Linked DNA regions of Homo sapiens: all the other regions are linked to region 1. The links come from fine-mapping of genetic effects on plasma protein levels. A gene starts in region 1. Each other region holds a variant in brackets. All regions are shown on one strand. Distances are between the middles of the regions.

Region 1 (8,000 bases):
TGTTCCCCCCGTGTCGCTGTTCCCCCCGTGTCGCTGTTCCCCCCGTGTCGCTGTTCCCCCCGTGTCGCTGTTCCCCCCGTGTCGCTGTTCCCCCCGTGTCGCTGTTCCCCCCGTGTCGCTGTTCCCCCCGTGTCGCTGTTCCCCCCGTGTCGCTGTTCCCCCCGTGTCGCTGTTCCCCCCGTGTCGCTGTTCCCCCCGTGTCGCTGTTCCCCCCGTGTCGCTGTTCCCCCCGTGTCGCTGTTCCCCCCGTGTCGCTGTTCCCCCCGTGTCGCTGTTCCCCCCGTGTCGCTGTTCCCCCCGTGTCGCTGTTCCCCCCGTGTCGCTGTTCCCCCCGTGTCGCTGTTCCCCCCGTGTCGCTGTTCCCCCCGTGTCGCTGTTCCCCCCGTGTCGCTGTTCCCCCCGTGTCGCTGTTCCCCCCGTGTCGCTGTTCCCCCCGTGTCGCTGTTCCCCCCGTGTCGCTGTTCCCCCCGTGTCGCTGTTCCCCCCGTGTCGCTGTTCCCCCCGTGTCGCTGTTCCCCCCGTGTCGCTGTTCCCCCCGTGTCGCTGTTCCCCCCGTGTCGCTGTTCCCCCCGTGTCGCTGTTCCCCCCGTGTCGCTGTTCCCCCCGTGTCGCTGTTCCCCCCGTGTCGCTGTTCCCCCCGTGTCGCTGTTCCCCCCGTGTCGCTGTTCCCCCCGTGTCGCTGTTCCCCCCGTGTCGCTGTTCCCCCCGTGTCGCTGTTCCCCCCGTGTCGCTGTTCCCCCCGTGTCGCTGTTCCCCCCGTGTCGCTGTTCCCCCCGTGTCGCTGTTCCCCCCGTGTCGCTGTTCCCTCCGTGTCCGTATTCCTCCCGTGTCCGTATTCCTTACCTGCACCTTTTCCTGCAGGTGGGACTCAGGGTACTTGTTCAGCACATGTGCTTTCCTCTTCGTCTTCTAGGAGGGAGTGGTTGGGTCTGGGCTCCCTGTTCCCAAGCCCACGTTGTGTTCATGGCTGTGGCTGCCTGGGTGATGAGTGTGAGTTTGCACCTGGGTTTCCCTGGGCCTTAAGCAGACAGCGTCACCCTCAGAGCCATCACCACTGTGAATCATTTGGATCTTTTTCCATCTGGGCATAAAATTGTATGTGTAGACAAATAGTTGTTTTTTGCTTTTTTGGGTGGGGGGGGTCAGGGTGTGGGGTTTACAGAAAAGGTGCTGTGCCCCTGGCCATCCTGTCCCCCGTGTCTGCTGATTACAGCTGAAGGACAGGTCCTCCTGGGATGCAGCATCAGTGTCCTCGGCCGCCCCTGGTAGCCTCCGGGGCACCATCCGTGCAGGGAGAGGCGCTCCTGCCTCTCTACCGTGCAGGGACAGTCGGGTGGGCTTTTGGTACACCTGCCAGGTGGTGCTGACCAAACTGAGCTTCATGCCCCCGGTGCAGTTTCGCTGATAGCACCCACAACAGCTCTTCCTTTCTCCCTCCTCCCTCCCTCCTCCCAAATAACCCACACCAGGTTCTGCTGTCAGAGTCTGCGATAGGAGTCCCATGTTTTCACTTTTTTCACCCAGTACAGCGAGTCCTTCCTTTCCACTGCAGTACCAGTAAATCTCGCCAAAGATGGCTACTCGGAGATATATGGGTCTGGAAGTGTATCCCTCCCATGTGAAGGGGTCTGTAGTGTCAGGTGGAACCGGCCCTTGTCTCCACCCACAGGGACCACCTTGGCCTGCAGCCCAGACTGCAGGAGAACAGAAGAGAAGGGGGCCTCTCCAGAACATTTGGCGATTAAAAAAAAACTTTTTTTTTTTTTTTTTGAGACGGAGTCTCGCTCTGTCTCCTAGGCTAGAGCGCGGTGATGCAGTCTCGGCTCACTGCACCCTCTGCCTCAGCCTCCCGACTAGCTGGGAATACAGGGGCCCGCCACCATGCCCGGCTAATTGTTGTATTTTTAGTAGAGACAACGTTTCACCATCTTGGCCAGGCTGGTCTTGGACTCCTGACCTCGTGATCCACCCGCCTTGACCTCCCAAAGTGCTGGGATCACAGGCGTAAGCCACGGCACCTGGCCAAAATTATTTATTTATTTTTTTTGAGACGATGCTTGCTTTGTCACCCATGCTGGAGTGCAGTGTTGTAGTCATGGCTTACTGCAGCCTTGAACTCCTGGACTTAAGTGATCCTCCTGCCCCAGCCTCCAAGTAACTGGGACATAGGTGTGCACTACCACACTTGGCTAATTTTTTATGTTTTTGTGGAGACAGGTCTCACTATGTTGCTCAGGATATTCTTGGGAACTCCTGGGCTCAAGCAGTCTTCCCACCTCAGCCTCTCAAAGCACTAGGATTACAGGTGTGTCACCACAGCTGGCAGTGATTTTTTTAAAGGTAAATGGCTCTGTTTGGTGGGTGCTGTCGGCGCCAAACTAGCTGGATGGGCTGTGCCTTGTACCACCTTTGCCTCCTGCACAGGGTTACCTTGGGCTTGGGGAGCGCATGGGCCTTGACCGAAGCCCTGAGTGGGTTAAGGGTAGTCCTGGGGGGAGGAGAGGAGGATGCGGAGGCCGTTTCCTACCCCAGTGTGCAGCCGTCATGGGACAGGCAGGTGCTGGAGCAGGCCGAGGACCCCTATCTGGGGTGGCATCCTTTGGGGGAGGGGTGGCAGCCTGGAGCCAGAACCACGTTGGCCAGGATGGAACTTTTTTTTTTTTTTTTTTGAGACGGAGTCTCGCTTTTGTCACCCAGGCTAGAATGCAGTGGCGCAAACTCGGCTCACTGCAAGCTCCGCCTCCCTGGTTCACGCCATTCTCCTGCCTCAGCCTCCCGAATAGCTGGGACTACAGGCGCCCGCTATCACGCCCGGCCAATTTTTTGTGTGTTTTTTTTAGTAGAGACGGGGTTGCACTGTGTTAGCCAGGATGGTCTCAATCTCGTGACCTTATGATTTGCCCGCCTCGGCCTCCCAAAGTGCTGGGATTATAGGCGTGAGCCACCGCGCCCAGCCAGGATGGAACATTTTTTATTATAGTAAAGTGCACACAAAACGTGCCGTTATAACAGTTTTTCAGTGTACAGTTCAGTGGCACGACGTGTATCTACATTGTTGTGCAGCCTTCACCACCACCTGTGTAGGAGTGGCTTTGAAAAGGCAGAGTATGGCCAGGCGCGGTGGCTTACATCTGCAATCCCAGCACTTTGGGAGGCCAAGGCAGGTGGATCACAAGGTTAAGAAATTGAGACCATCCTGGCCAACATGGTGAAACCCCGTCTCTACTAAAAATATAAAAATGAGCCAGGCGTGGCAGGCACCTGTAATCCCAGCTACTCAGGAGGCTGAGGCAGGAGATTCGCTTGAACCCGGGAGGTGGAGATTGCAGCGAGTTGAGATTGCACCACTGCACTCCAGCCTGGGTGACAGAGCAAGACTCCATCTCAAAAAAAAAAAAAAAAAAAAAAGGCAGAGTGCAAATTCCCCTGGACTTGAGTGGGCATGAGTCTCCCCAACAGTGTGGAGGGCCCACAGCTGCTCCCCCTGCTCCCTTGGATCTGCACCTCTGGGTAGGTTCTGTACCAAGTGGGCTGAGCCCTTGAGCCAGGGCCAGCTCCCTCCAACCTCCACATCTCCAGGGAGGATGCGGTCTGGCTCTTCCACCTTCAGTGATGCTCCAGATGTAATCCCAGGAGGGTGTCCACACCTAGTTACAGGAGTCTGAGAGCCTGGTGCTTCCTCAGGGCCCCTGAGCCTCCTGGGCTCCAAGTGCTTGCTCCTGTGCGCGAAGTTGCAGCAGCCGCAGGTCCTGTGCTCTGGGAGCACACAGGATGATTGAGGTGAGACTGACTCGAGCTACCCCAAGGATAGAAACTAGAACGTGGATCCAAGAGGGGGCTCACGGGTGGGCTAGGGGCCAGATTTTTTCTTTTCTTTTTTTTTTTTTTTGTTTGAGACAGTCTCGCTCTGTCGCAAAGCTGGAGTGCAGTGGTGCAATCTCAGCTCACTCCAACCTCCGACTCTGGTTCAAGTGATTCTCCTGTCTCAGCCTCCCGAGTAGCTGGGAGTACAGGCATGCACCACCACACCCAGTTAGTTTTTATATTTTTAGTAGAAACGGGGTTTCACCATGTTGGCCAGGCTGGTCTTAAACTCCTGACCTCAGGTGATCTACCGGCCTCTGCTTCCCAAAGTGCTGGGATTACAGGCGTGAGCCACCATGCCCCGCCCGGAGATCTAATGTAGTAGAGATAATAACCTTTATCTGCCACATGTAGCAAATATTTTCTCTGGCTCTTCCCCCCGCCCCCTCCTCTTTTTTTTTTTTTTGAGACGGAGTCTCGCTCTGTCGCTCAGGCTGGAGTGCAATGGTGTGATCTCGGCTCACCGCAACCTCCGCCTCCCGGGTTCAAGCCATCCTCCTGCCTCAGCCTCCTGAAGTTGGGATTACAGGCGCCCGCACCACACCCAGCTAATTTTTATTTTTATTTTTATTTTTTCTGAGACGGAGTCTCACTCTGTCGCCCAGGCTGGAGTGCAGTGGCGCAATCTTGGCTCACTGCAGGCTCCGCCTCCGGGGTTCACGCCATTCTCCTGCCGCAGCCTCCCGAGTAGCTGGGAATGCAGGCGCCCGCCACCACCCCCAGCTATTTTTTTGTATTTTTAGTAGAGACGGGGTTTCACAGTGTTAGCCAGGATGGTCTCGATCTCCTGACCTCGTGATCCGCCCGCCTCGGCCTCCCGGAGTGCTGGGATTACAGGCGTGAGCCACCGCGCCCGGCCTGTCCACTTTTCCTCAGTGTCACCTTGAGAATACCATTTCTGAGGAAAAGCATCTCTACATGTGCCTAGAAGACTGGAACAGCTACGCATCAAATGTTAGGGGTGTGGATGAGGCCTGCCTCTACCCCGTGTGTGTGTGTGTGTGTGTGTGGCATGTCTGTGTTACACATGTGCTCTTGGATATGACAGCCATGTCCTGTTCTTGTTTACACATGACACAGTTTGCCGCGTGTCAAGCGGCAGCTGAAGGATGTGCTGCACCCATTCCTGGACCTGGGATACACAGGAAGGTGCAGCAAGCCTTGTTTTCGGAAGTTCTACAATGACCATGATTGGTTTTATGTGGACAAATATAAAAAAGCTTCACTCTCCGTAGTGATGTCGGGTGACGGCAGGGGTCTGGGTCGGTTCCTGGTCCACCTCGCCAGCTACGTGGCTAGGTGCTGGGGCTGGTCCCACCTCCTTCACCACAACCCCCCGGCACCCCAGGTCCCCGATTCCAGGCCACAGCCGCGGCGGCTGGGTGCTGCGCAGGTACCGGCTCGCGCCGGGAGGGGGCGCTGTTCCCTAACCTGCTCCGAGTCAGCCCCGGGCCCTTAACGCCGCCCGCGTGCGTTCACGCTGCAGGTGCGGAGTTCTCGCGGTGGGTCCGGGCCGCGTGCTCGGCGCAGAGTGGGGAGGGCGAAGCCAGCCGCCCTCGGGATGGGCAGAGTCGGCCGTCCTCGCAGCCCGCCGCCCGGGGCGTCCCGCGGCCCTCACCTACCACCCCATTCGGGAGGGTCAGGCTGCACGCAGTTCGGTGCCCCCATGGCCGAGGCCCCAAACCTGCTGGAGGTGGAAAGAGGCGCGCCTGGATCTGGGCACTGGGGGTGTGCCCCAGGCCCTCGCCTTTCCTTGGGGAGGGGCGGCGCCTTCCTCTCGCGTCCTGACCTCGAGAGAGCACGGCAAGAAGGCTGCTCCTGGGAGAGGCTTTACTCAAACACGGGGAAGGTCGCCTGGGGATCCCGCGGCCACCCACCCACAGTTCAGCGGTACTCGGAAACCAGCGCCGAGATAACGTGGCTCAGGAACTTGTCCAGCGACGCCTGCAGCGCGGGGCTGAAGTCTCCGGGGTAGTGCCGGGCGAGGGTTACCAGCAGGCAGTGGCCCAGGAGCTGCGGCGAGCGCTCAAGGCTCACTCGCCTGCACCCGCCCCGCACGCCCCCCGCACCCACCCCGCCGGGGCCCTCCCGGGGACAGGGGCCCAGCACGGCAGCCGCTCACCTGGAAGCTGGCCGGGTCCACTCGCAGCTGGCACGCGTGCAGGTGGCTCAGCGCGGACAGCGCGTGGGGTAGGTCGTCCAGGCGCTCCACGGCGAGGCTCAGCGCGTCCGCCACCTTCTGGCCGTGGGCTCTGACTTGTGAGGAGCCGGGGCTCAGGTCCAGGTGGGAGAAGTAGGTCTTCGTGGCGGGGAAAGCCAGGAAGGTCCTGCGAGAGGAACGTGGGTGAGGCGCGTCCGGGGGGCTTGGGGAGGGAGGGCCCCTGGGGGCGGGGGCGCCCAGCCTGCCGCACCTTTCCAGGGCCTCTGTCGTGTAGACGCCGACGTTGCTGCCCAGCTTCTTCCACAGGGCGCGCACCAGCGCCCGGTCCTCCGCGGACAGCGCCATCCCCGCGCTGGAACCCGCCGCGCCCTGCGACCCCGCTGCGCCTGCGCGGACCGGCCAGGGGTCCCGCGGCCTCCAGGGGGCGCCGCGCCGCAGCTTCGCCGCCCGGGGGTCCAGGGCCTCGTCGGAGATCCCGGGACCGCGCGCGCTCAATCTCCGACAGCTCCGACCGGGGCCCTCTGAATCGCCCTGGATCCAAGGCCCCCCGTCTTAGGTGTTCACTATATGGTATTTAGTCTCTACTAAAAACACAAAAATTGGCCGGGTGCGGTGAGTGCAGTGGCGCCATTCCGGCTCACTGCAACCTCCGCCTCCCGGGTTCAAACGATTCTCCTGCCTCAGCCTCCCGAGTAACTGGGATCACAGGTGCATGCCACCATGCCAATTTTGTATTTTTAGTAGAGACAGGGTTTCACCGTGTTAGGCTGATCTCAAACTCCCGACCTCAGGTGATCCTCCCGCCTCAGCCTCCCAAAGTTCTGGGATTACAGGCGTGAACCACCGCGCCCGGCCATGTACATTATTATAGCACTGAATTTCGGCATGGATTTGGCATTGGAAGTCAGTTTATTCTGCCTCTTGATTCTATTGTGACACTTGCCCGAGTCTGTTTTCTCATTTATTATATAAAATGAGGGTGACAGTTTCTTCTCAGATTGTGAGAATTAAACGGATAACAACTGTGAGGTGCCTGACTCGTAGCAGGTGTTTCTTCAGGGCAGTGAACATTTATTGAGTACCTGGGATGTAACCCAAGAATAATAGTAAATGCATATGCAGCACTCACTCTGCTGTACCCCTTATATCTTTTTTGTTTTAAAAAAGGTGATAAAATAGACATAAATTACCATTGTAGCCATTTTTCAGGTATAAAATTTGGTGATATTAAGAACACTTAGTGTTATGCAGCCATCACCACTATCTAGGTCAGAACTTTTTCATCATCCCAAACGCCACCTCGGTACTCATTAACAGTAACTCTGGCCCCGGCAGCCACTAATCCGCTTTTGGTCCCTATGGATTTGGCTGTAGCGGATATTGCATATAGATGGGGTCATGCAGTTTGTGACCTTTGGTGTCCGGCTTCTTTTACTTGTCAAATATTTTCAGGGTGCAGCTACATCCTATCAGTGCTTCATTTCTTTTTGTGGCCAAATAATATTCCATTGTGTGTATAGACCACCACATTTTGTTTACCCATTCATCTACTGATGTATAATTTTTATAATTTTTTTTGAGATGGAGTTTTGCTCTTGTTGCCCAGGCTAGAGTGCAATGGTGTGATCTCGGGTCACTGCAACCTCTGCCTCCTGGGTTCAAGTGATTCTCCTACCTCAACCTCCCGAGTAGCTGGGATTACAGGCGTGCGCCACCACACCCGGCTAATTTTTTGTATTTTTAGTAGAGATGGGGTTTCCCCATATTGGCCAGGCTGGTCTCGAATTCCTGACCTTGTGATCTGCCCACCTTGGCTTCCCAAAGTGCTGGGATTACAGGCGTGAGCCACTGTGCCCAACCACCGTGCTAATTTTTAAATTAAATTAAATTAGATTAAATTTTTTTTTGAGACAGAGTTTCGCTCTTGTTGCCCAAGCTGGAGTGCGATGGCGCGATCTTGACTCACTACAACCTC
Region 2 (8,262 bases), 40 kb before region 1:
TAAGTTCACTTCAGATGAACAAAACAGATAAACGCTAGCTTTGTATAATGTGCATTTATTCGAAGTAAGAATTTGAAAAGACTGAATAGTGGAAGGTTATCTGTGGTGATTACGCCACTGAGAGAAAAGGAGTCCTGTAGAGACCACCCCCATTTTAAGGTTTCACAGCTACCTCACGGAGGTTAAAAACTATCCTCTCATTTTAAGGATGAAATGTGCATATGTTAAAGGAAGTTTTCTTCATGATGAATCATTGCTTATATTAGGGAGGAGCACCTTCTGGAAAACCGCTCAGATGTATTAAAACTTCTCAAGCTGAGTTTTCTGACAGCAAATGCGAAATGAATGCCAAACCTTGTGCCTCTGTTCCTTGGGGTGTTGTCTGCTGTTTGGCCTGGGATGGGAAAACGTTACTGTTTGATGCAGATTGTTGTGTGTACCGAGGTCAATACAGATTAATGATTTCAACTCGTCAAAGGAAGTTTCACTGTAGGGTATTTTCATAGGATGCACAACTTGGAATTCTTGATAAACCCATAGTGAAGGAAGTCAGAGGGAGCAGATAGATGTGCACTCTCGGGAAGATTTCAACCATGTTTTCCTTGGCCAGACCCTGTGTAGCATAGCTGCAGAATACTGGTGAGAAAAATAATCTGAGTGAGAGTATTTCTTTTCTTTTCTTTTCTTTTCTTTTTTTTTTTGAGACAGAATTTCAGGCTGGGTGCGGTGGCTCACGCCTGTAATCCCAGTACTTTGGGAGGCCGAGGCGGGTGGATCACCTGAGGTTGGGAGTTGGCGACCAGCCTGATCAACATAGATAAACCCTGTCTCTATTAAAATACAAAATTAGCTGGGTGTGGTGGCGCATGCCTGTAATCCCAGCTACTCAGGAGACTGAGGCAGGAGAGTCACTTGAACCCGCGAGGCAGAGGTTGTGGTGAGCCGAGATCGAGCCATTGCACTCCAGCCTGGGCAACAAGAGCAAAACTCTGTCTCAAAAAAAAAAAAAAAAAGAGACGGAGTTTCGCTCTTGTTGCCCAGGCTGGAGTGCAGTGATGTGATCGTGGCTCACCGCAACCTCTGCCTCCCAGGTTCAAGCCATTCTCTTGCCTCAGCCTCCCGAGTAGCTGGGATTACAGGCATGCACCACCTCGCCCGGCTAACTTTTGTATTTTCAGTAGAGACGGGGTTTCACCATGTTGACCAGGCTAGTCTGGAGCTCCTGACCTCGTGATCCACCCACCTTGGCCTCCCAAAGTGCTGAGATTACAGGCATGAGACACTGCGCCCGGCCAGAACTGTGTTTTCTGAAGGTTCCGGAAACTTTGGTGCCCTTCCTGGTCAGTAGTGTTAGACCAGTAGAAGGTACAGAAGAGAACACAGGTTGTGGAGTAAAAAACGCCTGACACACTGGATTTAGCAGCCATGTGGAATATTGTGGAAGGACTTAATGAATGTGATATTTCAGCTCTGCTTGATGTTGGGCATCCAGGGGAATGGCCAGTAGTATTTTTCCCTGCCTCCTTGGCAAAGCTGAAAAGCTACATCCAAAGAGGGTAATCATAGAACCCAAGCCTATCCTCAGTGTGCTTAAGCAGGGACTCTTTTGGGAGCTCTCACATTGAAAAGTAAGTGCTGAATTTTGCTTCATGTGAGGTTTTTTTTTTTCAGACGGAGTCTCACTCTGTTGCCTAGGCTGGAGTGCATGGTGCTATCTCTGCTCACTGCAACCTCTGTCTCCTGGGTTCAAGCAACTCTCCTGCCTCAGCCTCCTGAGTAGCTGGGATTATAGGCGCCCGCCACCACACCTGGCTAATTTTTTTTGTATTTTTAGTAGAGATGGGGTTTCATCATGTTGGCCAGGCTGGTCTCAAACTCCTG[A/C]CTTCAGGTGATCCACCCACCTCTGCCTCCCAAAGTGCTGGGATTACAGGCATGAGCCACCGCGCCTGGCCTCATGAGGTTTTCTTTTTTTTTTATTTTGAGACTGAGTTTCGCTCTTGTTGCCCAGGCTGGAATGTAATGGCTCCATCTCAGCTCACTGCAAGCTCCGCCTCCCGGGCTCAAGCAATTCTCCTGCCTCAGCCTCCCGAGTAGCTGGGATTACAAACGTGCGCTACCACACCCGGCTAATTTTTGTATTTTTAGTAGAGACGGGGTTTCACCACGTTGGCCAGGCTGGTCACGAACTTCTGACCTAAGGTGATCCGCCCTCCTCGGCCTCCCAAAGTGCTGGGATTATAGGCATGAGCCACCGCGCTCGGCCTCATGAGGTTTTCTAATGTCATATCTTTCTTGACAGTTGAGTTTTTTATAATGGAAATCAATTTGTACTTCATACTTTGTTGTACTTCAGGTTTTAGGGTCTGCTTCCTTTGGTAGTAGCTTTTTCTTTGAACAACAAAGCCTTGATTAGTTTAAAGCATTTTTTCTGATAGCTGCCATTCATTTTTCAGCTACAATGCTTAGTTTGTGGAAACTATATATTTTAAAGGACAACACCCACAACTTAGAAGAGTGAATGAGGCCAGGTGCGGTGGCTCATACCTGTAATCCCAGCACTTCGGGAGGAGGAGGAGGAGGCGGGTGGATCACTTGAGGTCAGGAGTTTGAGACCAGCCTGGCCAACATGATGAAAACCTGTCTCTACTAAAAATACAAAAATATTAGCCGGGCGTGGTGGCGTGCCCCTGTAGTCCCAGCTATTCGGGAGGCTGAGGCAGGAGGATTACTTGAATCTGGGAGGCAGAGGTTGCAGTGAGCTGAGATCGTGCCACTGCACTCCAGCCTGGGCGACAGAGTGAGACTCCGCCTCAAAAAAAAAAAAGAAAAAACAGAGTGAATGAGGTAAAAGTTGTCAGATTTTCAGTGACAGTGATTTTAAGTGCAAATTTGGCTTCTAGAACCACTATTGTCCTATCTCTAAGTCTTCTATGTAACCGACCATAACGTGAGTCCCATCTGACTTCAGAGTAAGAATGATAAAGGAGAAAAGTCAATCTTTCGTCAAAATAAACATCACCATACAAGGCAGACCCGTTGTCTGCCGCCTCCATGTTAGCTTTATTATTGGTGATACTGAAGGATGTTTTGTTAGTGAGTATGCCACGTGCTTTCTTTTTTTATCTATTATTTTATTTTATTTTATTTTTTTGAGACGGAGTCTCGCTCTGTCGCTCAGGCTGGAGTGCAGTGGTGCGATCTTGACTCACTGCAAGCTCTGCCTCTCTGGTTCATGCCATTCTCCTTCCTCAGCCTCCTGAGTAGCTGGGACTACAGGCGCCCAGCTAATTTTTTTTGTATTTTTAGTAGAGAAGGGGTTTCACTGTGTTGGCCAGGATGGTCTTGATCTCCTGACCTCGTGATCCGCCCGCCTCGGCCTCCCAAAGTGCTGGGATTACAGGAGTGAGCCACCGTGCCCAGCCTAGCATGCTACATGCTTTCTATGAGACTGCATCCCAAGAGTCAGACATGCAAGCCTCTCTATTTTTTTCCCCCTCAAGATGGATTAAAGGTTTAAAGCCTTCCTTTCTTTTTTTTTTTTTTTTTTTAAAAGACGGGGTCTCTTTAAAAAGCTGGGCGAGGTGGCTCACGCTCGTAATCCCAGCACTTTGAGAGGCCAAGGTGGGTGGATCACCTGAGGTCAGCAGTTCGAGACCAGCCTGACCAACATGGAGAAACCCCATCTCTACTGAAAATACAAAATTAGCTGGGCGTGGTGGCACATGTCTGTAATTCCAGCTCCTTGGGAGGCTGAGGCAGGAGAATCGCTTGAACCTGGGAGGCGGAGGTTGCGGTGAGCCGAGATTGCACTACAGTCTGGGCAACAAGAGCGAAACTCCATCTCAAAAAAAAAAAAAAATTAAAAAGACAGGGGTCTCTGTTGCTCAGACTGGAGTGCAGTGGCTCAGTCACAGCTCACTTGAAGCCTTGACCTCCTAGGCTCAAGCGATCTCTTCCCCTCAGCCTCCCAAGTGGCTGGGACTACAGGCACATACCACCACACCCAGCTAATTGTTAATTTTTTCATAGAGACAGGGTCTTGCTATGTTGCCCAGGCTGGTCTCAAACTCCTGGGCTCAAGTGATCCTCCCATCTTGCCCTCCCAAAGGTGTTGGGATTACAGACATGTGCCACTGCAACTGGTACTAACGTCTTTTTTTTTTTTTTTTTCTGGTTATGTAGACATGTTCTTTTGTCCTACTGGGGGTGTCTCCTAGTTGGGATGTTGGGTTTTGTTAACATGCACTCTATAACTTGACACGATGATCCTCAGCACACAAACCTCCCTGTTGCTGTGTAGATGGCGAGAGGCAGAAGGTGTCTGCATAGAGTCCTATACTTAGGATTTAGATTAAAATCATACACTGTTTTCTAATTGTACTGCATATGGTACACATAATAGCACATCATGCTGTTCTTACTGACAACATAAATCATTTTGTTTTAGTAATGGAACGTTTTGCTTGTCAAATGGAGGAACTGAGTGGGACAATTATCTGTCCTCACTTAGATGTCCAGGGTCATTTCCCAGGCTAAGAAAATGTGTAGAGCATGTATTTGGCTACGAACCAGCCTGTTCTCCTTTATTCCCTTTGATACACAATCAGCTACACAAAGCCAAGTGTTAGGTTGTGATGTAATTGCCAAAATCTAACTTCTGTCCGCTCTTTCCTCTTCCTCTGTCTCTGCATCTTAAGCATCGAGCATCTCAAGTAGTCAAGATTGCAAGACAATGCCTAGAAATTTGTTGCAGTGAGACTGTTTTCTGGCCCTTTCCTTTTTTTTTTCCCCTTTTCTGAGACAGAGTCTCACTTTATCACCCAGGCTGGAGTGCAGTGGCACAGTCTTGGCTCACTGCAAACTCCACCTCCTGGGTTCAAGCGATTCTTGTGTCTCAGCTCCCCAGGTAGCTGGGATTACAGGTGCCCTGCCACCACACCTGGCTAATTTTTGTAGTTTTAGTGGAGACTGGGTTTTATCATGTTGGGCAGGCTGGCCTTGAACTCCTGACCTCAAGTGATCCGCCTGCCTCACCCTCCCAAAGTGCTGGGATTACAGGCGTGAGCCACCACGCCCAGCCCTGGCCGTTTCCTATCCCTGCCACCCCACATGCTGCCATTTACTGAATCCTTGGACTGATGCATAAATAAAACTGGGCCAGGCACCGTGGCTCACACCTGTAATGCCAGCTCTTTGGGAGGCCAAGGTGGGTGTATCACTTGAGGTCAGAGGTTCAAGACCAGCCTGGCCAACGTGGCGAAACCCTGTCCCTACTGAAAATACAAAAAAAAAAAAAAAAAAAAAAAAAAAAAATTAGCTGGGTGTGGTATCACGTGCCTGTAATCCCAGCTACTTGGGAGAATGAGGCAGGAGAATTGCCTGAACCCCGGAGGCAGAGGTTACAGTAAGCTGAGGTCGCGCCACTGTACTCCAGCCTGGGTGACAGGTGAGACTCCTTAAAAACTGGCAAAAGCCAATTAATGTAGTTGTGATGATTACAGTCCAATTATCTCTGGGTCTAAAATAGAAACTTTACACTATTAAATGCATCAGTTTCAAGTATCACGTAGTCACGATGGTAAAAGTGAAATGAGGCTTCTCAGCCATATCTCCTTTCTTAATTTTCTTATTGCAGTGTCAGTGTTCCAAAAGTGATCATTTCTGTTGGTGACAGTTGAAACACCAAGTCGCGTTGTGTGCTTTCTACAGTAGGTAGGCACTGAGGTCTGCATTTTCTGTTTCTTTCCCACAGCGCATGGATTTAGGAGAATGTACCAAAATCCACGACTTGGCCCTCCGAGCAGATTATGAGATTGCAAGTAAAGAAAGAGACCTGTTTTTTGAATTAGATGTAAGTTTTATTTAATGTTGATTTATTCCTACTGCGAAGAACCCAATATTGAACTAACAAGAAAAATGTAACATACGTAAGTTATGAAGCAAAATAATAAGGTAGTTGCTTGTTATCCTGCCACTCAAGCTCAGAGCTAGAATACAGCCAGTACTGTTTATATGTTGTGTCCAGCGTCCTGTCAGTGTCCTAAATGATAATATGTGTTATCTCATTTTGTTGCTTTTAAAAATTTTAATTACATTTTTATGAGTCCTTGAACAGTGTTTATTTTTGCTTAGTTTTGAATGGTTTCATAGTGTAGAGTCTTTAAAATTAGATTTTTTTGGTTCAGTATCATGTTTCTGTTTGCCCAGGTTGTTGCATATAGTTTTCATTGCTGCTTGAATAATTCTCAAACGATCTTTGCTTTATTCATAGACATTTAGATTGATTCTAGTTTTGCTACTGCAGACAATATGAATATTTTTGCATAACTTCCTTGTCACGTGGATAAGGATTTATTTTGGGTATATTCCTAGGAGAGGGATTGCTGGTTTATAGGAGATACCCGTATTTATCCTCGCAAGACAATTTTGTAATGTTGTCTTCTTGTTTCTATTTGGTAAAGTCCCATAGCAGTGTCTGCACGCTCACCAACACTTTGTATTATCAGACTGTTTAATTTTTGCAGTTTAGTGGTTGTAAAATGGCATTTCTTTCTGATCTCAATTTGCATTTTTTTAGTACTCAGTAGTTGTGTTATTTTATCTACATTAGTAAATTCTTTTTTTTTTTTTGAGACGGAGTTTCACTCTTGTTGCTCAGGCTGGAGAGCAGTAGTGCGATCTTGGCTCACTGCAACCTACTCCTCCCAGGTTCAAGCAATTCTGCCTCAGCCTCCTGAGGAGCTGGGAATACAGGCATGAGCCGCCATGCCCGGCTGATTTTGTATTTTTAGTAGAGATGGTGTTTCTCCATGTTGATCAGGCTGGTCTCGAACTCTCAACGTCAGGTGATCCGCCCGCCTCAGCCTCCCAAAGTGCTGGGATTACAGGTTGAGCCACCGTGCCTAGCTTCTTTTTCTTTTTGATACAGAGTTTCACTCTGTTGCCCAGGCTGGAGTGCAGCAGCATGATTATAGCTGACTGTAAGTGAATTGCTGGGCTCAGGTGATCCTTCTTCCACAGTCTCCTAAATAGCTAGTACTACAGATGCACACGACCATGTCTGGCTAATTATTTATTTAATTTATTTTAATTTTTATTTATTTATTTATTTTGAGACAGAGTCTTGCTCTGTCACCAGGCTAGAGTGCAGTGGCACCATCTTGGCTCATTGCAACCTCCGACTCCCTGGTTCAAGTGATTCTCCTGCCTTAGCCTCCCAAGTAGCTGGGATGACAGGCATGCGCCACCATGCCCAGCTCATTTTTGTATTTTTGGTAGAGATGGGGTTTTACCATGTTGGCCAGGCTGGTCTCGATCTCCTGACCTTGTGATCCGCCTGCCTCGGCCTCCCAAAGTGCTGGGATTACAGCTGTGAGCCACCGCGCCTGTCCTATTTATTTTTGAGACAGGTTCTTGTTCTGTCACCCAGGCTGGAGGGCAGTGGCGTGATGATGGCTTGCTGTAACCTTGACCTCTTCGGCTCAGTGATAGCCCTGCCTCGGATTCCTGAGTAGCTGCGGGTATAGGTGTGTGCCACCACACCCGGCCTTTTTTTTTTTTTTTTTTTTTTTTTTTGAGACAGGGTTTTACTATGTTGCCCAGGCTGGTCTCAAACTTCTGCCCTCAAGTGATCCTGCCACCTTGGCCTCTCACTGGTATTGGGATTTCAGGTGTGAGCCACTATGCCTGGCCAGTAAATTCATTTAGAGTAGCATTTTTCAGCTTTTTTTCGTTGTTGCCCCCAGTGGAGCCTTTTAAGATTCTTTTTTCTGTTTTTTTGAGACAGAGTCTCCCTCTGTTGCCCAAGCTGGAATGCAGTGGCGCAATCTTGGCTCATTGCAACCTCCGCCTCCTGGGTTTAAGCAATTCTCCTGCCTCAGCCTCCCAAGTAGCTGAGATTAGAAGTGCCCGCCACCACACCCAGCTGATTTTTGTATTTTTAGTAGAGATGTGGTTTCGCCATGTTGGCCAGGCTCATCTTGAACTCTTGACCTCAGGTGATCCACCCACCTCACTCTCCCAAAGTGCTGGGTTTACAGGTGTGATTACACTGTGCCTGGTAAGAATACATGATTTAAACTCACTCAATTTTAATTGTTTTTTAATCCCTAATCACCCATCGCTAGTATGACCAGAGGTTAGTAGAGGGGTTTGATGCCATTCTGGTTCTTGAGTGAAGACCGGGAAGGCACTGAGCATGGGATGAGGGAGCCAGTGAAAAATATAAAACCCAAGGGAAAGGGTCCCTCCGCTTGCATTACA
Region 3 (8,262 bases), 51 kb before region 1:
AGCCCAGCCAACATGGTGAAACCCCGTCTTTACTAAAAATAAAAAAAATAGCTGGGCGTGGTAGTACGTGCTTGTAGTCCCAGCTCCTCCAGAGGCTGAGGCAAGAGAATAGCTGGACCAGGGAGGCGGAATGAGCCAAGATCACGTCACTGCACTCCAGCCTGGGTGACAGAGGAAGACTCTGTCTCAAAAAAAAAAAAAAAAGAATTTCATTAACAGGTTTTGTGGTGGAAACCTTCCACTTTCACTCCGAGATCACTTGCTCTAAGGGAAGATAATTACCATGTGAGGACATGGGCCCTAAGGAAAGTTCCATGATGCAAGGAACTGAGGGCTCCTGCCACCAGCCAAGAGGGAACTGAGGCTTCCAGTCACTAGCCTTGTGAGTGAGCCATCTTGGAATCAGATCCTCCAGCCCTGGTCCAGCTTTTATTTTATTTGTTCTTTTTAAATTTTCGACCTCTAGAAAAAACAGAAAAGACTCCATCCAGCTTTTAGACACCTGCAGCCCCAGCCAACATCTTGGCTGCAACTCCATGAGACCCGAAGTCATAATCACCCAGATAAGCCACTGATCAATTCCTGACCCACAGAAACTGTTGGATAATAAATATTCGTCACTTTAATCCATTAAACTTTGTGTTGTTACAAGCAGCAGACAACCATTAGAAGTCAGCAGAATGGAAGCAAGGAGCCTGAAAAGAAAAAGAAGGGGTGGGCATGGTGGCTCACACCTGTAATCCTAACACTTTGCGAGGCCAAGGCAGGAGGACTGCTTGAAGCCAGGAGTTTGAGACCTGCCTGGGCAACACAGTGAGAACCCATCTACATATTTTTTTAAAAAAATACATAAATAAATAAACAGGCTGGGCGCAGTGGCTCACACTTATAATTCCAGCACTTCAGGAGGCCAACAAAGGAGGGTTGCTTGGGCACAGGAGTTCAGGACCAGACTGAGAAAGAGAGACCCCATCCCTACAAAATAATTTATTTATTTATTTTATTTTATTTTTTTGAGACAGTCTCGCTGTGGCCCAGGCTGGAGTGCAGTGGCGCGATCTCGGCTCACTGCAGGCTCCGCCCCCCGGGGTTTCCGCCATTCTCCTGCCTCAGCCTCCCGCGTAGCTGGGACTACAGGCGCCCGCCACCTCGCCCGGCTAATTTTTTGTATTTTTAGTAGAGACGGGGTTTCACCGTGTTAGCCACGATGGTCTCGATCTCCTGACCTCGTGATCCGCCCGCCTCGCCCTCCCAAAGTGCTGGGATTACAGGCGTGAGCCACCGCGCCCGGCCTATTTATTTTGAGACAGTCTCGCTATGTCTCCAGAGCGTAGTGGTGCAATCTCGGCTCACTGCAACCTCTGCCTCTCGGGTTCAAGCTATTCTCCTGCCCCAGCCTCCCAAGTAGCTGGGACTACAGGTGTGCGCCACCACACCCAGCTAATTTTTATATTTTTAGTAGAGACGGGATTTCACCATGTTGGACAGGATGGTCTCGATCTCTTGACCTAGTGATCCGCCTACCCCAAACTCCCAAAGTGCTGGGATTACAGGCATGAGCCACTGCGCCCACCCAAAAAAAATTTTTAAGAAAAATAAATATGGTGGCACATGCCTGTAGTCCCAGATACTCAGGAGGGTGGAGCAAAAGGAAAAAAAGAGGGCCAGTTGCGGTGGCTCACACCTGTAATCCCAGCACTTTGGGAGGCCGAGGCGAGTGGATCACCTGAGGTCAGGAGTTTGAGACTGGCCTGGCCAACATGGTGAAACCCCTACTAAAAATAAAAAATAAAAAAAATTAGCTGGGTGTGGTGGCGGGCACCTGTAATCACAGCTACTTGGGAGGCTGAGTGGGGAGAATCGCTTGAACCCGAGTAACTGGGATTACCGGCACCTGCCACCATACGCAGCTAATTTTTTTATTTTTAGTAGAGACGGGATTTCACCATGTTGGCCATGCTGGTCTCGAACTCCTGACCTCAGGTGATCCGCCTGCCTCGGCCTCCCAAAGTGCTGGGATGACAGGCGTGAGCCACCGCGCCGGCCCAGCAAGCTCCATTTTTTATTTATCTAATTTACTATCTGTACCCTCCAGTAGAATAGAAGCTCCTTGAGGACAGGAAGTTCTTTCGTGGAGTACTATATCCTTAGCTCCTACAACCATCCCTGGTTCCCAGCAGACACTCGGAGAGTATTTGTTGAGTTATTCTGCTCTAATTGGATGCAGACTGAAATTGCAATAAGGGAAGTAGTGTAATCTGATGCTGGCGCCGTAAAGACACCGGCAGCCAGTACATGGAAGGGAGCGCGTCACAGCCTCCTCAGCTGGAATCACAAGGTTTAGAACCAGAGAGTAAGTGAAATTGCCTACCCTGATATCCTATCAGTCTGTCCAAGGGCAAACTCTCTCCTTGACAACTCTCGGCCAACGAACGTAGGGGAGAGCCAGGAACGCTAATCCCAGTGTTTTCCTCCCATCTAGCCTCTGTTTTGTGTTCTATGCCTGAGTCCCTCCCACAGACGAGCAACCTCGGCTGCGCTCGGGGAGCTTTCCCGGGGTGCCGGACGGACAAGCTTGCAGACAGCGTCCCGAGAGAGGACACGCCTCTCCGACCCCCGTGAGGCTTCTCATCCACATTCTTCCACCATAAAAAAACACTCTCAGGCAACCCAGGCGGCACCAAGAGCGAAAGCGACCACGGCCGGCTCACCTACGCTGCGCCACGGCGGGGAGCTCCCTACCGGGAGGTAAAACCCCGCTTTGAGGAACATGTGGGCTTGTTCTGAATGCCACTGAAACCCAGGCTGCGGCAATGGGGGAAACCCGAAAGAATCAGCCTCCAGAGGCGCTGCTGCCGACCCGCTGAGGGACTTGGGGCCCCGCCGCAGCCTCCCGGCCCGCACCCGACTCGGGAAGGCGGAGGAGCTAGGGGGCAGCACGGCGGGGTCCTCCAGGGGCCGAGGGACTGGGGAACCTGGGGGCCGGGGTCCCAGAGCGAAGGGGCGGCCTGCGGCGCCCCTGCGGCGTGCACGCGCGAGTACGAGGCCGCGCTCACTCACCTGCCGCCGCGGCCTCTCACCCGACCGCGCCGCTGGCCCCGCCCCCTGGCGTCACTTCCGACCAGCCGGGCGGGCGGGGGCGGAAATGCGCAGGCTCCGACCCCGCCCCACCGCCATGCTTCGGTTGCTCGGCAACGGGGATCTTGGGCGCTGCCTCCGCCGGGAACCTGGCGGTGTCCTGTTTGTCGCTGTCGCAATGGATGCTGAACGTCCTCGCCCCTCTTCGTTCCCGTCCCCCCTCCGTCCTCGCTCCTCTCCGTCCTCTTTCCCCTCCTTCTCTGCGTCCTCGCTCCCCTCCTCCTCCTCTCCCGACCTTGTCCTCTTCCCGCCTTCTTTCTTGACGTCGACCCCCGATCTGCGTCCTCGCCCCCGCTTCCGGGTGCTCTCCCCAGTGTTTCTCCTCTTTGACCACGAGGAGAATTGCTGGCACTGAGGATGCGAATTTTCGGCCTTGAAATACGGTGCCAGGGCCGGGGGCGGTGGCTCACGCCTGTAATTCCAGCACTTTGGGAGGCCGAGGCGGGCGGATTACAAGGTCAGGAGATCGAGACCATCCTGGCTAACACTGTGAAACCCCGTCTCTACTAAAAATACAAAAAATTAGCCAGGCGTGGTGGCGGGCGCCTGTAGTCCCAGCTACTCAGGAGGCTGAGGCAGGAGAATGGCGTGAACCCAGGAGGCGGAGGTTGCAGTGAGCTTAGACTGCGCCACTGCACTCCAGCCTGGGCGACAGAGCCAGACCGTGTCTCAAAAAAAAAAAAAAAAAAAAAAAAAAAAAAGGCTAGGGGCTCATGCCTGTAATCCCAGCACTTTGGGAGGCCGAGGCAGGTGGATCACCTGAGGTCGGGAGTTCAAGACCAGCCTGACCAACATGTATAAACCCAGTCTCTACTAAAAATCCAAAATTAGCTGGACTTGGTGGCGCGTGCTTGTAATCATAGCTACTCGGGAGGCTGAGGCAGGAGAGTTGCTTCAACCTGGGAGGCAAGAGTTTGCGGTGAACTGAGATCTTGCCATTGCACTCCAGCCTGGGCAACTAGAGTGAAACTCCGTCTCAAAAAAAAAAAAAAAAGGATGGGGTCTCCCTCTGTCCCTCAGGCTCAAGTGCAGTGGCGGGATCACAGCTTACTGCAACCTCTGCTTCCCAGGCACAAGTGATCTTCTCACCTCAGCCTCCGGAGTAGCTAGGACTACAGCTGTAAGCCACCATGCCCAGCTAATTTTTTTCCTTTCTTGTAGACATGGGGTTTTGCCATATTAACCAGGCTGGTCTTGAACTCCTGGACTCAAGTGATCTCCTGCTTTGGCCTCCCAAAGTGCTGGGATTTCAAGCATGGGCCACTGTGCCTGGCAGTTGTCTGATTTCTAGTAACTGTGGCAGTTTGGTAGGTGCGTAATTCAGATGATTTAATTGCTTTGTTCAAATGGCCAATTGGAAGCAAAGTCATGCCTTAAAACATTATTTAAAACTTGTCAGCCGGGCACAGTGGCTCATGCCTATAATCCCAGCACTTTGGGAGGCCGAGGTGGGTGGATCTCAAGGTCAGGAAATCTAGACCATCCTGGCTAACACTGTGAAACCCCGTCTCTATTAAAAATACAAGAAAATTAGCCAGGCGTGGTGACGGGCGCCTATAGTCCCAGCTACTTGGGAGGCTGAGGCAGGAGAATGGTGTGAACCTCGGAGGCGGAGCTTGCAGTGAGCTGAGATCGCGCCACTGCACTCCAGCCTGGGCGACAGAGTGAGACTCTGTCTCAAAATAAATGAAAACAAAACTTGTCTAACCGTGTCTGGACTTTTGATGCTTCTAGCCCATGAACAGTCTTTGTTGTATTCTTAGAGTAAGTCTTTTTTCCCCCTTCCAGGGCAGCAATCATATTAAATTATCATTTGTGAAATGATTTTTTAAAATTTAAATTTTATTTTTTAATTAATTAATTTTTTTGAGGTGGAGTGTCAAAATAGACCACTCCCGGCCTGTTTTTTTTTTGAGATGGAGTCTCCCTTTATCGCCCAGGCTGGAGTGCCGCGGCACAATCTTGGCTCACTGCAACCTCCGCTTCCTGGGTTCAAGTGATTCTCCTGCCTCAGCCTCCTGAGTAGCTGGAACTACAGGCGTGTGCCACCACACCAGGCTAGTTTTTTTGTATTTTTAGTAGAGACAGGATTTCACCATGTTGGCCAGGCTGGTCTTGAACTCCTGACCTTGTGATCCACCCACCTCGGCCTCCCAAAGTGTTGGGATTACAGGCGTGAGCCACTGTGATCGGCCTTTTTTTTGGCCGGGGGGAGAGGGAGTTTTGCTTTTGTTGCCCAGGCTGGAGTGCAATGATGCATTCTCGGCTCACCGCAACCTCTGCCTCCCAGGTTCAAGCAATTCTCCTCCCTCAGCCTCTCGAGTAGCTGGGATTACAGGCATGCGTCATCACGCCTGGCTAATTTTGTATTTTTAGTAGAGATGGGGTTTCTCCATGTTGGTCAGTCTGGCCTCAAACTCCTGACCTCAGGTGATCGCCTGCCTCGGCCTCCCAAAGTGCTGGGATTACAGGCATGAGCCACTGCCCCCAGCCTGGCATGTTTTTTAAGTTTTAATTTCATTTTTGAGACAGGGTCTCATTCTTTTTTTTTTTTTTTGGCCTCCCAAAGTGCTGGGATCACAGGTGTGAGCCACCGTGCCTGGCCAAGACAGGGTCTCGTTCTTTTGCCCAGGCTGCCATGCAGTGGTGTGATCACAGCTTACTGCAACCTCAACCACCCAGGCTCAATCCATCCTCCAACCTCAGCTTCGAGTGGCTGGGACTAGAGGCACATGCCACCACACCCGGCCTATATTTATTTATTTATTTTTATGTTTGTTAATTCTTGTATTCAACCAACAGTGAGTGTTGTGTGACCCTGTTTTAGGTGCTGGGGATACAGAATGAAGCACAATCATTAGCTGTAGACAACGTAGCCTAATGGAGCTGGATCCACCACTGGCAACCTTAAAGTTACCTCCCTTGGTCCTTAAGATGAAATGCAACTTCAAACTCTGCCATGCTTAGCATCTTGTTTCAAAACAAATAATGGTCCACCTAGTTTGCTGCTGGTAGCCCTGTGGCTCTATTAATATTAACCATCTATTGATGAAGTTAACTTTCATAAAGGATTCTACGAAAGTTCAGAGGCATGAAGTATGTAAGGACAAACAAGTACTGGTCCGCAACAAAAATAGCATCGGTATTCTGCTTTCAGAAAAGCCAAGAAAACCAAGAAAAAATTCATTCTGAGTATATACAGAACTGCTGGACAGAGGTCATCCTATACGTGTGGTACACGTACAAATATGACATAAGAAGAAGTATGAATTATTGCAGTCATTATTAAACAACGAAGTATGCCAAATTAGTCATCAGGTTTCAAAGAATCATAGCCTTCTTTCCATAGGTCCCGCCACGTTTTAAGGAAACGTGCCTTTTCTGTACATTTGAAGGCAAGTTCTTCCACTTGAGCTGATACTGCAGATGTGGCTTCAAGAAGTTTGGTTAATGAAAAGGCTGCGTCTCCGATCTGCAGC[C/T]CCACTTCCTCCAGCGGGTCCACCGTTCGGCCGCTGCTCCTGCTCGGAACTGGCCAGCCCAAACTCACTGGGCTGCCAGGGTAAGATGCTGCAGAGGCGTCTGAAGAGGAGGGAGAAGGAGGCGGCGGGGGCGGCGAAGAAACCTGCAACTTCTCAGGGTCGGCCATGGGGAAGGGCTGGCACCGCGGAATCCGACCCGAGCAGCCCAACGGACACCCTATTTATTTATTTTAAATAGAGAGCAGGGGCCTGGCGTTCTGGCTCACAGCTGTAATCCGAGGACTTTGGGAGGCTGAGGTGGGCGGATCACCTGAGGTTAGGAGTTTAAGACCAGCCTGGCCAACATGGCGGAACCCCGTCTCTGCAAAAGTACAAAAAAAAAGTTAGTCGGGAATGATGGCGGGTGCCTGTAATCCCAGCTACTGGGGAGACTGAGACAAGAGAATCGCTTGAACCCAGGAGTCAGAGGATGCAGGAAGCCGAGATCGCGCCACTGCACTCCAGGCTGGGCGACAGAGGGAGACTCCGTCTCAAAAATAAATAAAATACGGCAGGGCGCGGTGGCTCACGCCTGTAATCTCAGCACTTTGGGAGGCCGAGGCAGGCAGATCACAAGGTCAGAAGTTCAAGACCAGCCTGGCCAATACGGTACAACACCGTGTCTACCGAAAATACAAAAATCAGCTGGGCATGGTGGCTGGCTACTTGAGGTCAAGACTTTGAGACCAGCCTGGCCAGCATGGTGAAACCCCGTCTCTACTTAACATTCAAAAATTAGCCGGAGGGGGTGGCGGGCGCCTGAAATTCCAGCTACTGGGGAGACTGAGGCAGGAGAATCGCTTCAACCCGGGAGGCGGAGCTTACAGTGAGCCGAGATCGCGCCACAGCATTCCAGCCTGGGTGACAGAGCAAGACTCCGTCTCAAAAAAAAAATAAACAAATAAAAAATAAAGACCGGGCGTGGTGGCTCATGCCTGTAATCCCAGCACTTTGGGAGGTTGAGGCAGGAGAATCGCTTGAACCCAGGAGGCGGAGGTTGCGGAGAGCCAAGATCGCGCCATTGCACTCTAGCCTGGGCGAAACTCCGTCTCAAAAATAAATAAATAAATAATAGAGGTTTAATATAATAGAAGTATATGCCAGACTATGCACACATAAGTGCATGCTATAATTCTATTATCACATAAAATAACTGCTTACATATGCCTTTTCTTTAGTCCCTGGGACAGTAGACCATGAGCTCACAAAAGGACGACCACGAGGTTGTAATCATAGAACCTAATATTAATGCCATGACTGATGGCCAAACGTGGTGGTTCACACCAGTAATCCCAATACTTTGCCGGGCTGAGGCGGGAGGATAAGGAGCCGGGGAGGTCGAGGCTGCAGTGAGCGGTAATCGCGCCACTGCATTCCAGCCTGGGCGACGGAGCAAGACCCTCGCTCTAAATAAATAAATAAATAAATAAATAAAATTCCATGCTTTATTTAACTTTCACAAAAATCATATGAGGGGCACCTTTAGAACCCTCATTTCACAGATTTAAAAAAACGAGCGTCGGGGAGCTAAATAATATGCTCACGGTTTCATGGCTAGCTTAGAAAAAGCACGGATTCATCTTGTTTTTGATTGACTGTATTTCAT

Direction of the effects. Positions count from the first base shown, and alleles are read on the strand shown. Strength reflects both the effect of a copy and how common the allele is.
For the plasma level of the protein whose gene starts at base 6,398 in region 1, allele A in region 2 goes with a lower level than allele C (weak association).
For the plasma level of the protein whose gene starts at base 6,398 in region 1, T is the high allele of the variant in region 3 and C is the other (strong association).

The links. PIP is the chance, under the fine-mapping model, that this variant and not a neighbour inherited with it causes the effect. The UK Biobank Pharma Proteomics Project read protein levels with antibody pairs (Olink). The fine-mapping took linkage between variants from a reference panel, not from the people measured, so its PIPs are less certain.
Region 2: its variant is fine-mapped to the plasma level of the HBQ1 protein (UK Biobank, PIP above 0.99).
Region 3: its variant is fine-mapped to the plasma level of the HBQ1 protein (UK Biobank, PIP above 0.99).

Annotation. Positions count from the first base shown.
Region 1 is chr16:178,857-186,856 of GRCh38, reverse strand. HBQ1 (hemoglobin subunit theta 1) reads right to left here and starts at 6,398. Exons shown (of 3, transcript NM_005331.5): 1 at 6,276-6,398; 2 at 5,987-6,191; 3 at 5,678-5,877. The coding sequence starts at 6,370. The coding sequence ends at 5,749. RefSeq lists a silencer at 5,278-5,627 and an enhancer at 5,638-5,897.
Region 2 is chr16:218,238-226,499 of GRCh38, reverse strand. LUC7L (LUC7 like) reads left to right here. Exons shown (of 10, transcript NM_201412.3): 3 at 5,753-5,851. Among named protein-coding and RNA genes, the nearest start is that of LUC7L, 7.1 kb to the left of the region's middle. The variant A/C (reference allele first, on the strand shown) is at 1,882.
Region 3 is chr16:229,656-237,917 of GRCh38, reverse strand. It overlaps FAM234A (family with sequence similarity 234 member A), which reads right to left and starts at 3,097. Exons shown (of 13, transcript NM_032039.4): 1 at 3,061-3,097. It also overlaps the pseudogene C4orf46P1. RefSeq lists silencers at 2,815-3,274, 3,355-3,404 and enhancers at 3,137-3,680, 8,097-8,262. The variant C/T (reference allele first, on the strand shown) is at 6,618.